2 separate regions of the Homo sapiens genome follow, and region 1 is linked to region 2. Evidence: fine-mapped expression QTL. A gene starts in region 2. The other region holds a variant in brackets. All regions are shown on one strand. Distances are from middle to middle.

The links. PIP is the estimated chance that this variant, and not a neighbour inherited with it, causes the effect.
Region 1: its variant is fine-mapped to the expression of MRPL35 in esophagus muscle (GTEx, PIP above 0.99). The same link has a PIP of 0.9 or more in coronary artery, gastroesophageal junction, testis and tibial artery.

The regions. Positions count from the first base shown.
Region 1 is chr2:86,219,159-86,224,534 of GRCh38, reverse strand. It overlaps REEP1 (receptor accessory protein 1), which reads left to right. Exons shown (of 9, transcript NM_001371279.1): 8 at 4,414-4,565. Among named protein-coding and RNA genes, the nearest start is that of MRPL35, 22 kb to the right of the region's middle. The variant T/C (reference allele first, on the strand shown) is at 3,250.
Region 2 is chr2:86,196,731-86,202,090 of GRCh38, reverse strand. MRPL35 (mitochondrial ribosomal protein L35) reads right to left here and starts at 2,634. Exons shown (of 4, transcript NM_016622.4): 1 at 2,558-2,634. The coding sequence starts at 2,600. RefSeq lists an enhancer at 2,546-2,815.

The DNA of each region.
Region 1 (5,376 bases), 22 kb before region 2:
GAACCCTTTGATGATTGGCCTACACCATTCCCTCTGAGGCCTTGGGAAAGCCCCTGCACTCTGCAGGCCTCAGTCTCCCCCTCCATGAGGTGTCCCTTGGTCCTCCCAGCTCTGACAGTCTCTACTGGATTGTGCAGTGGTGGCAGATGGTGTTGGGGGAGGTCTGTCTTGCACCTGGGGCTATAGGCTGACTCTTAAGCAGTAAGAGGATTTCACAGTTGTCGGGGACACTTTCCTCCTGGTCCCCTGAAATGTTGTCACAAGGGGTGCTCACTCAGGCCAAAGCCTGGGAAGATTCAAATTACCTCTGGGGCCATGCAGAGCCCCAGGATCCCTCAGCAGACAGGAACATTTTCTAGGAGTTGTAAATTCAGGTCTTAATTCATGATGGGGGTAGGGAAAGGAGGCATTTCGGAGGCTGCTAAGTGCCTTTTAGGGCAGTGACAGAGCTTAGAGGCCCCAGGGGCAGCAGCCTCTATTCTAAGCTGCACATCTCAGATGCCAGAACATTCTTTTCCCATCTTTGCTCTGTTCCTGCCCCATTTGTCAACTGATTCCCTATTGTTTTCTGCATGTCTTTGTCTCTCTTTTTCTGTGTGTCTATTATTATCTCTCTCTCTCTTTTTTTTTTTCTCTGCCTACCTCTATGTCATATAGAACTGAACTCTGGATTACTGCCTGTGTGGTTAGTCATAGAGGTGTCCCTCCCCCCCTTTTAAAATCAAGCATGTAGGACATAATTTTTAAAAGCAGTCATCCTTTTTGTCCTCTCAGAGAGAGAGAGAGAGAGAGAGAGAGAATTGCATTTTGAGTGTGGCCTCTGGGCAGTGTCCTTCTGATTATAGCAGGAGGAGCTGCCTGAGGTTTAGAGCATGGGAAGTGAGTGAGCATGTGTGTGTCTACATGTGTGTATGTGAGTGTGTCTGTGTGTGAGTGTGTGTGGATGGGGATGTGTGCATGGTGCACACGTGTGAGTTTTAGTGCCAAAGACCCTTCTCTAACGGAATGTTCTTTTCTCTCTCCTCGGTGCTGTTGGGGACGTGGATGTAAGTGTTCCAGACAGGCGTGCTCTTCTGCAGACATTTGCTGCCTTCCATTAATGCTCCCGCTAATGTGTGCTGTGTGGGATGTTTTTGCTAACCTGGGGGAGGTTCTGCTGCACTGCAGGGGTGCGGCAGCCCTGGGCCCACTGCAGGCTACACAGGCCTTTAAAGGGCTGAGAGGCTCTGCCAGTTTCTCCCTCCCTCCCTTCCCCACAGAGAGAAGAGGTGGAGCCTGCAGCCCTGGCTGCTGTAGCCCTGCTGACACATTTGCTAATACAGAAACATCAGCCAAGGCCACACACCCATTCCCCTGCTGTGGAAGACGGCAGAAACCCTGCCCTTTCCTAGAAGCAACCCAGCTTTGGGCATCATAGTGGCAGCTCTGCAGGCTCAAGGCCGTGGCCACCATCACCTGAGGTTTGCAAGTTGTTATGGCCATGACCTTGGGCGGGAGACCCTCCTCCCACACACATTGTCTCTGGGAGCCAATTAGAGTACTAAGATGTGGATAGCAATACTCTTTCAGGCCTGTTGCCAGGGGTAAGGACCTGTTGGGTCACCAATCTTTAGATCTTCAGGGACAAGAACATGGAGGAGGCAGAGCATGGGATTTTCTACCCAGCTACTCACTCTCCTGCTCCTCCTGGTGCCCCTCTTTTGGGACTATGTTCTGTGGGGTTCATTTCTCCATTTATACTCCTTCCTGATATAAAAAGGAGTTAGGTCTACTTGTGGAAATATATCTAAAGTAGCAAATCAAAGTAAGAAAATTGAAGCATGGGGAGAAGGGAGTGGGCAAGTAAGATGGAATCAGTGGGGAGAAGGACATTTTAAATGCATACCATCAAGGTGTAGACTGTTGAGACACCTGGCTTCCTTGAAACCACTGCAAAGAGGGAAATACAATTATTAAGAGATTCAGTCCACTGTGCAACAGCCAGCTAGAGGCGTGGAAGCTTGTCTTATTTAGAATGTTTATTCTCACTGGTTCTGAGAGTAAGGCAAATATTATAGACAACACTCTTGGCAGAAATGCTCAGCGGACACAGTGACTAGGAGATGTCTTATCTTCTTAGGAGGTTCTCTCTGTAGCTTCTTCCTGAGGCTATTCTGGCTCCCTCACTGCCCACACTGGCCTCTTTTGCTCCCAGCCTCTGCTGAGCTGAGCACTTGTTTCTATTCCTGCTTGGATATCTGGGTTGTCCTTGAACCATCACTCCTACTGGGCTGGAGGGTCATTTCTTTTCTACCCTGCAATCCTTGCAGTGGAGAACATGCACAAAGCCATTTTGGTTTCAGTCCTGAGATTATAGTGATGATGGTGATTTTGGTAAGTGTGAGTTCATTGCTCAGCCTCAGTGAATCCAGACTGGATAACTAGCCTGGGTTGTTAGATGCCTGAGGATCTCACGGTGACTTTGGGCCACCTTCTGACACCCACAACCATCAGTACAGGGAAAGCCCTGGACCTGGATGTGGAGGGTACAGCATATGCAGAGGCACAGTCTCGAACCGGTACCCACCCCACTTCCATGTCATGGAGTTGGCTGCTGGGGTGGAGCTGGCCAGGCTGCTTCTGCAGTTTTTGCCTTGGTCTGAGGGCTTTTGGTCTTTTTTCCCTCCTGCCAGGCAGGAGGTATCTGTGTCCAGAAGGAATTTCCTGGTTTGGTTAATGGGGGTGTCAAGCTCTGACTTGGGACTAGAGCTGAGCTCTCTGAGATGACTTCAGGATTCTATTTAGTTTAGTTGATGAGTGGCCACTGTGTGCCCAGCCCTGGGTCAGGTGCTCAGAGAGACTGAGGGAGGATCAGCCATGGCCCCCCAGTCTCAGGATGCCTTCTGTTGGCTGAGGCAATGAGACTGACATGAGGACCAGGGCACCCAACACAAGCTGTGTGGCACAGCCTCCAAGCACTGTCGGGTCTCAGAGTGGGGAGGCCAGGGAGGGTCAGAGTATTCAGCGAGGGCTCCCTGGAGTCACTGGTCTTTGTGCTCAACAGGATGCAGCTGATTAGGACAGAGGAAGGGAGCAGAGGACAAACTAAGCCCAGAGTAAATAAGCTGAGGGAAGTGCAGAGTAGAAATAAAATAATAATAGTAATTTAAAAATCAAAGGAACATCAGTGATCTCAGGACTTTACTTACTAAGGCCCAGTCTGAACCAATCACACCCCAGCCTAAAATTCAGCTTTGCATGTTGTGCTGC[T/C]TCCTGCTGGCTGTTGGGGAGCACAGCAGTGGTAACTGGTAAAGCTGCCCAAGATTAGGGTTCAGTTGTCTGTTTTTTTACTCCACGCCTGGTGGTGGTATAGTCTAGCAAGTCCACTGTTGATGGAGAGAGAGCACATTCGGTGGCTGAATATGTTCTTAGGAGCAGGGTGTCTCAAGAAGAGCTGTGGTTTCTATCTGGAGGCCTCACGGTGATTGGACCAGATGACTTGAGAACCCCTTAGTCTTGCATTCTGTGATTCTAGGTAAAAACAATAGATGCAGCATAGAAAAATGTGTGTGTGTGATACCAGATAAGCTGGGTAGGGGCAGAAGATATTTTACATCTCAACTAAGAACCGCCTAGCAGATGACATGGAATATGTATTAGCATTTAACATTTAAAAAATACTGTGCGTTCAATGAGATGAATTAATTCTGAAGCTTTTCCCGCAGATGTATTCAAGGCAGACTGAAACAGGAATCTTGCTATCATTTTTTTTGGCAGAGGCATCTGTCAGATTCTCCTTCCTTAGGTTTCTCTGCTTCTCTAGGACTGGGCCTTCGCAAAAAAAAAAACAAACAAAAAAACTATATAGCTTTGTTTAAGGTTATCACTTAAGGCCTCCTGGCATTTTATATCCTGTCTCTTACAGGATGCTTGGAATTGAATATGCAAGTATAATATACAATGTCAACATGGCTTGTATGTACAACATAGAAACTGCTCTCCCACCCCACCCCACATCACTGCTGCCATCCTCTCTAGAGGAGATTCTTTCCCTGAGCATTCACCTGGTGTGGGATCACAGGACTGAGCTGCAGGGATTGATGTGTCTCAGTTAAAGCCGCTTCTTTCTTCACCCAGGGAAGTGATGCCCCCTTAGTAAATCTACTGAATTACTCAGAATTCAGTAGATTCTGAGTCTGTGGTTGTTTCTGTGCACAGTGCCTGGAGATTCACACAACTGCACTTTCACAATCCCAGATCCCCTGTAAGGAGGCCCCCAAAACATCAGTGCTTCCTCAGACCGAGGGGCCTCAGCTGTCCTCACAGGCCTGGTTTGCTGTGCTGTGTGCCTAACCTTGCCCTTCCCTGCTCCCTGCACTGATGCTTCCTTGCTATACCTTGTCTCATCTGTGTAGATTGTAAATGGACATTAAGTGGTTGAGGGAGATGTGAATGAGGGTGGTATGAAGGCATGGGAGCCCCACCAGGTCCAAAACCCATTGGCGTTTTCTGACGACGAGGAGGAAGACCTGCTGGATTTCATGTACAAGTATAAAGCACCTCGAAGGATGGAATTGCCCCTGGAGGTACACAGTGTCTGGGGCTGTGGGTTGGAGTGTGTTTGTCCAAAGGCTATGCCCTGGAGATTGGGGGTCCTGGGAGCAGCATCTCTTGGGGCACCAACATCTCCTCAATACCTGGGGTGGAAAGATCTCCTTCCATCAAACAAGCAGAACCAGTCACTGGATAGCATCCAGCTACTTGCCAAGGAGAGGAAATCCTATTAATTTCATTTAGAAATAGGAGCGTGAGCCGGGTGCAGTGGCTTATGCCTGTAATCCCAGCACTTTGGGAGGCCGAGGCAGGTGGATCACCTGAGGTCAGGAGTTCGAGACCAGCCTGGCCAACATGGCAAAACCCCTTATCTACTGAAAATACAAAAATTAGCCGGGTGTAGTGGCGCGCACCTGTAGTCCCAGCTGCTTGGGAAACTGAGGCAGGAGACTCGCTTGAACCCAGGAGGAGGAGGTTGCAGTGAGACTGCACTGCTGCACTCCAGCCGGGATGACACAGCGAGACTCCTTCTCAAAAAAAAAAAAAAAAAGAAAAGAAAAACAAATAGGAGAGTGGTAAAGTATCTAGGTCTTTATTGTTTTGTTTTGGTTTTTCCAGGTATTAACAACTACCACTCTAAGTTGACGTACAAGTGAAAAACAACCCAAATTGACTGTTTTGGGGGAAGAAAACTCAGAATGTGTTATTTGAAAAGTTTTTATAAATAAGAACAAGGCTTGTTCATCGCTGTATCTCCAAGACACAGCATATAGTGCCTGGTATAAAGTAGCTATTCATGAAATGTTAGTGAAGGGGTATAGCCCTTTAGGGTTACCAAAACCA
Region 2 (5,360 bases):
AGTGCAGTACATCAAGGAAAGTAACTAATTTCCTTCAGTCCTCTGCCCCGTCTGGGCATTTTCATACAGACTAGTCTACTCTAAACACACTGTTGTATAGAGAATACAGATGTTTTCACAAAAGAGGTAACGCAAAACCAGAGTTTTGACAGAGTACGAAGAGACAGAGGGAATAGGACGTACAAAGGTGACGATGTACATTTGGGGAATTACAATGGCCCTATGTGGCATGAATCAAAGGAATGAATGGGGGACATGAACTGCACTGGATGGGAGTGGAGGAGACTGTGACAGTATCGAAACCAGGAGTCTTCAAGATTTCTGATCCTATGTTTCCTAAAAGAATTTTGAAAAACTACCCTTTCACAAATTCTTAATATCTAAAATATCAAATAGTTTAAATTGTTAAAAAGGCTATAATTTCCAGCATATTTAAAATACTGACATTTTAAAATAAGCTGTCACATCACTCTTTAAATTGTTTTCAGTAGAATCTAAATTAATAGTAAGTTGATAACTACCTACATCATCTATTTAAAAATTACAAGAACTATAAATTCAAGTAGATGAAAAACAACTTTTCGTCAAAGGGCACTCCAAAATAATGTAAAAAAGACAAGCCTGAGTGGGAGAAGCTAAAGGACACACACAAATGAAAAACAAAAACAAAACAAAAAATACTCTAAATAAATAAGACAAACAATCCAATAGGAAAATGGGCAAAATATTTAAGTGGATATTTCATAAAGGAAATTCAAAAGGCCAATAAAAATGTGAAACACACTATAGCTTGTTATTAATCAGAGAAATGCTTATTTAAATCTCAATGAGATACCATTACAAAGCCACCAGATTAACAAAAATTTGTAGGTCTGACAATATCTATTGACAATATCAATATCAGGTGTTGGTGAGGATGTGGGGCCTCAACAGTTTGGCAATATCAGGCAATGCTGAATATATACATATTCTCTGACCAGGCAATTCCACAGCGATTTTCACACATACCCACATCCTCAGAAACAATTGGACTCATGCGCCAGGATGAGATCAATCAGCTTTGTACATAATTGCCCCAAACTGGAAATGGAGAATTGTGGCACAGTCATATAATATTATACAGCAGGCCGGGCAGGGTGGCTCACACCCGTAATCCCAGCACTTTGGGAGGTCGAGGCGGGCGGATCACCTGAGGTCAGGAGTTCCAGACTAGCCTGACCAACATGGAGAAACCCCAACTCTACTAAAAATACAAAATTAGCTGGGCGTGGTGGCGCATGCCTGTAATCCCAGCTACTCCAAGGGAATCACTTAAACCTGGGAGGAGGAGGTTGCAGTGAGCCCAGATCGTGCCATTGCACTCCAGCCTGGGCAACAAGAGAGAAACTCCGTCTCAAAAAAAAAAAAAGAATTATATAGCAATGAGAAAGCATTACAGCTACGCAAAATGAATGAATGAATCTCACAATGTAAAAGAAGATACTAAAGCGTATATACTGTATGAACCAATTCATGTGAAGTTCAAAACCAGGCAAAACTATGTTCTTGAGATGCACATATGGATGCTAAAACTACTATAGGAAAAATAGGCAACCTAATAGTAACTATAAAAATGAGAACAGTGTTTATATCTGGGGGGGAAGTAGAGAATTTTGATACATAGGGGAGAGGAGGCTTCTGGTAGTGCACTGTTTTGACCTGAGTGTTAAACAGGTGTTTGCTTTAGAACTGTTAAATCATTCATGCATACTATATAAAATTTTCTTCATATGTATTATATTTCGCGAACACAAAAAATACTCCACATAAAAAAAGCTTTTCTCTAACGGTAAAATTTACATCGCTGCATTTTCTTGACTGATCTCGTATATTCTCCCACAAAATGTTATCCTAACAATATATTTTGTGTGAAAGTAACTTACTGAGCATCCTATGGTATTTGGATGATTTTTAACTTTTTGCAAAAAGTACTTAACGTCACGGCAACTTAATTTAGTCGCCTTTACTTCTGCTATCTCTCAGTCAAGAAGTCCTCATACCAGCCCTTGTGCCGGGGGCTGTAGTTAAAAATTAAATTAGCCTTCAAGCTTACCATGTGTCAGGCACTGCCCAAAACGCTTTACGTGCATTATCTCATTTAATCCCCAGGTAGGTGGTTATGACCCCCATTTTAGAGGTGTAGAATCTTAAGTTAGGAGACATTAATTCTCAAGGTTAAAGGTCGTGAATGGCAGGTCGTAGCCTCTAAATCAGAAAGTTAGGTGAGACTTTTTGGTTTCCCTCGCCCCCTCCGTTCCAGTTTCTCTGGCTTCTTTTCTAGGGAAAAAAAGCTGGTAAGGAAGCGGCAAATGCGTGACACACAGGCCCGCGTGAGTCCGAGTCGGGGGACTTGGTACGGGCTGCCGGTCACACCGCCCCAGAGAAAATTGGGCGCAACCTTCTTAACTTAAATAATGACCCTTTTTGCTTGTTAACCTCCAGTCTAAACGCCCATTCCATCCCGCACCAGTTTCCCCTTCTGTGAAGGCATGCATGGAGTATGTCGCTCTCCACTGACCTGAAGCTGCTCTCACTGCACCAGCAAAGGCAGAGGCAGCCATCTTCACCTTCGCCTACGGCGGCCGCTTTGGGTTTAAAAGCACAAGAGCAAAAGAGAATGAAGGGAAAGCAAGGAGGCGGAGTCAAGGAAGAGGAAAAGAACAAAGTTGTCCACTCAACATTTATTCAATGTCATCTGCCGGGTTCCGTTCTTCGCCGCTGTAAAACGACTGCCTATAGAAGGTTCTACAAAATTTCTTATTAAAAAAAATTCTTGGGGCCGGGCACGGTGGCTCACGCCTGTAATCCCAGCACTTTGGGAGGCCGCGGCGGGCGGATCACAAGGTCAGGAGTTCGAGACCAGCCTGGCCAACATGATGAAACCCCCGTCTGTACTAAAAATACAAAAAGTAGCCGGGCTTGGGAGGCTGAGGCAGGAGAATCGCTTGAAACCGGAAGGCGGAGGTTGCAGTGAGCAGAGATCGTGCCACTGAACTCCAGTCTGGGCGAAAGAGCGAAACTCCATCTCAAAAAAAAAAAAAAAATTCTTGCCGGGCGCGGTGGCTCACGCCTGTAATCCCAGCACTTTGGGCGGCCGAGGCGGGCAGATCACGAGGTCAGGAGATTGAGACCATCCTGGCTAACAGGGTGAAACCCCGTCTCTACTAAGGGGTACAAAAAATTAGCCGGGCGTGGTGGCGCGCGCCTGTAGTTCCAGCTATTCGGGAGGCTGAGGCAGGAGAATCGCTTGAACTTGGGAGGCGGTTGTTGCAGCAAGCCAAGATTGAGCCACCGCACTCCAGCCTGGGGTACAGAGCAAGATATAGGGTGTATTACCTTGGAACACTATTGTTGCCAACTTGATCTCCCACCTATGGTGGCCACTTTGAGTCCAAAAACAGGCACATACGCTAGACAAGTATATTGAAACATTCATAAAAGCTCTTTGAATTGGCAACGGGAGTCATTGCGCACTTTTTTTTTTTTTTGAGACTAGGTCTTGGTCTGTTGCGAAGGCTTGAGTGCAGTGGTGCGATCACAGCTCACTGCAGCCTCGACCTCCTAGGCTCAAGCAATCCTCCCACCTAAGCCTCCTGAGTAGCTGAGACTACAGGCACACACCTGGCTAATTTTTAAATTTTTTGTAGAGACCTAGGTCTCACTATGTTGCCCAGGGTGGTCTCAATTATTTGGTATGGAATCAAACAGGTCTCCCACCTTGGCCTCCCAAAGTGCTGGGATTACAGGTGTGAGCCACTGAGCCTGGCCTCACTGCACATTTTTGAACAAGTGAGTGACTTGATTTAAATTTTGTTTTTTAGAGACAGGGTCTGAGTGCAGTGGTGCAATCACTGCAGCCTGGAATTCCTGAGCTCAAGGGATCCTCCCACCACAGCCTTCCAAGTAGCTGGCACCACAGGCATGCACAATCATCCCCTGCTAATTTAAAAAAATTGTTTATAGAGATGAGGTTTCACTTTTTTTTTTTTTTTTTTTTTTTTTTTTTTTTTTGGAGACAGACTCTCGCTCTGTTGCCCAGGCTGGAGTGCAGTGGTGCGATCTTGGCTCTCTGCAAGCTCCGCCTCCCGGGTTCACACCATTCTCCGCCTCAGCCTCCCAAGTAGCTGGGACTACAGGTGCCTGCCACCACACCCAGCTAATTTTTTGTATTATTATTATTTTTTTTAGTAGAGACGGGGTTTCACCGTGTTAGCCAGGATGGTCTCGATCTCCCGACCTCATGATCCGCCCGCCTCGGCCTCCCAAAGTGCTGGGAGAGGTCTCACTCTTTTGCTCAGGCAGGTCTCAAACTCCTGGGCTCAAGTGATCCTCCCACCTCAGTCTGCCAAAATGCCGGGATATGAGCCACCACACCCAGCCCCTGGTAACAAATTTTTTTTTTTTGAGACGGAGTTTCGCTTTGTCCCCCAGGCTGGAGTGCAGTGGTGTGATCTTGGCTCACTGCAACCTCTGCTTCCCAGGTTCAAGTGATTCTCCTTCTTCAGCTTCCCACATAGCTGGGATTACAGGCGCGCACCACCAAGCCTAGCTAATTTTTGTATTTTTAGTAGAGACGGGGTTTCACCATGTTGGCCAGGCTGGTCTCGAATTCCTGACCTCAGGTGATCCGCCCGCGTCAGCCTCCCAAAGTGCTGGGATTACAGGTGTGAGCCACAGCGCCTGGCCTGCCTGATAACATTTTAAAGCAAAAATATTGACAACTTCCAAGTGGAGAGTGAGGACTCTCCACGTAGGTTATGAGGGGTTGGGAGGCTAATTTTGAGGTTTGAGATCTTGAAGCTAGAGAGGTTGCTAATGATGTTCAGGCGCAAGTTGTGGCTGTGACGTACATGACTGAAGCAGGATGAAAACATTCACTGGCATTGACAAATTCAAAGCCAAGGGTGTTAGAAAAGTCATCACACGGGCACCACATGACTGAAGCAGGATGAAAGCGTTCACTGGCATTAAGAAGTTCAAAGACAAGGGTGTTAGAAAAGTCATCACACCGGCACCACTGGGCATGACAGCAGTGGGCAGGGAGGCAGCAATTCAATTGCTAAAATTACTAAAGAAAACGGGAGACTGCTCTGGAAGCTAAGTGAAAGAGATATGAAACATATGTAATTACTGTAGTCCCCTAAAAACCATAGAACATAGAACATATACAAACATAACTATTGCTTTCAGATAATTTTCAAGTCCATCTCTCCATGCTACAAGTCATAGCGCAGTCTACCTCTAGAGAGAATACATATTGTAATAAATTACCCAGTTAAGACTTGGAATACTTTGCAAATCCAATAGAAGATAGAAAAGTT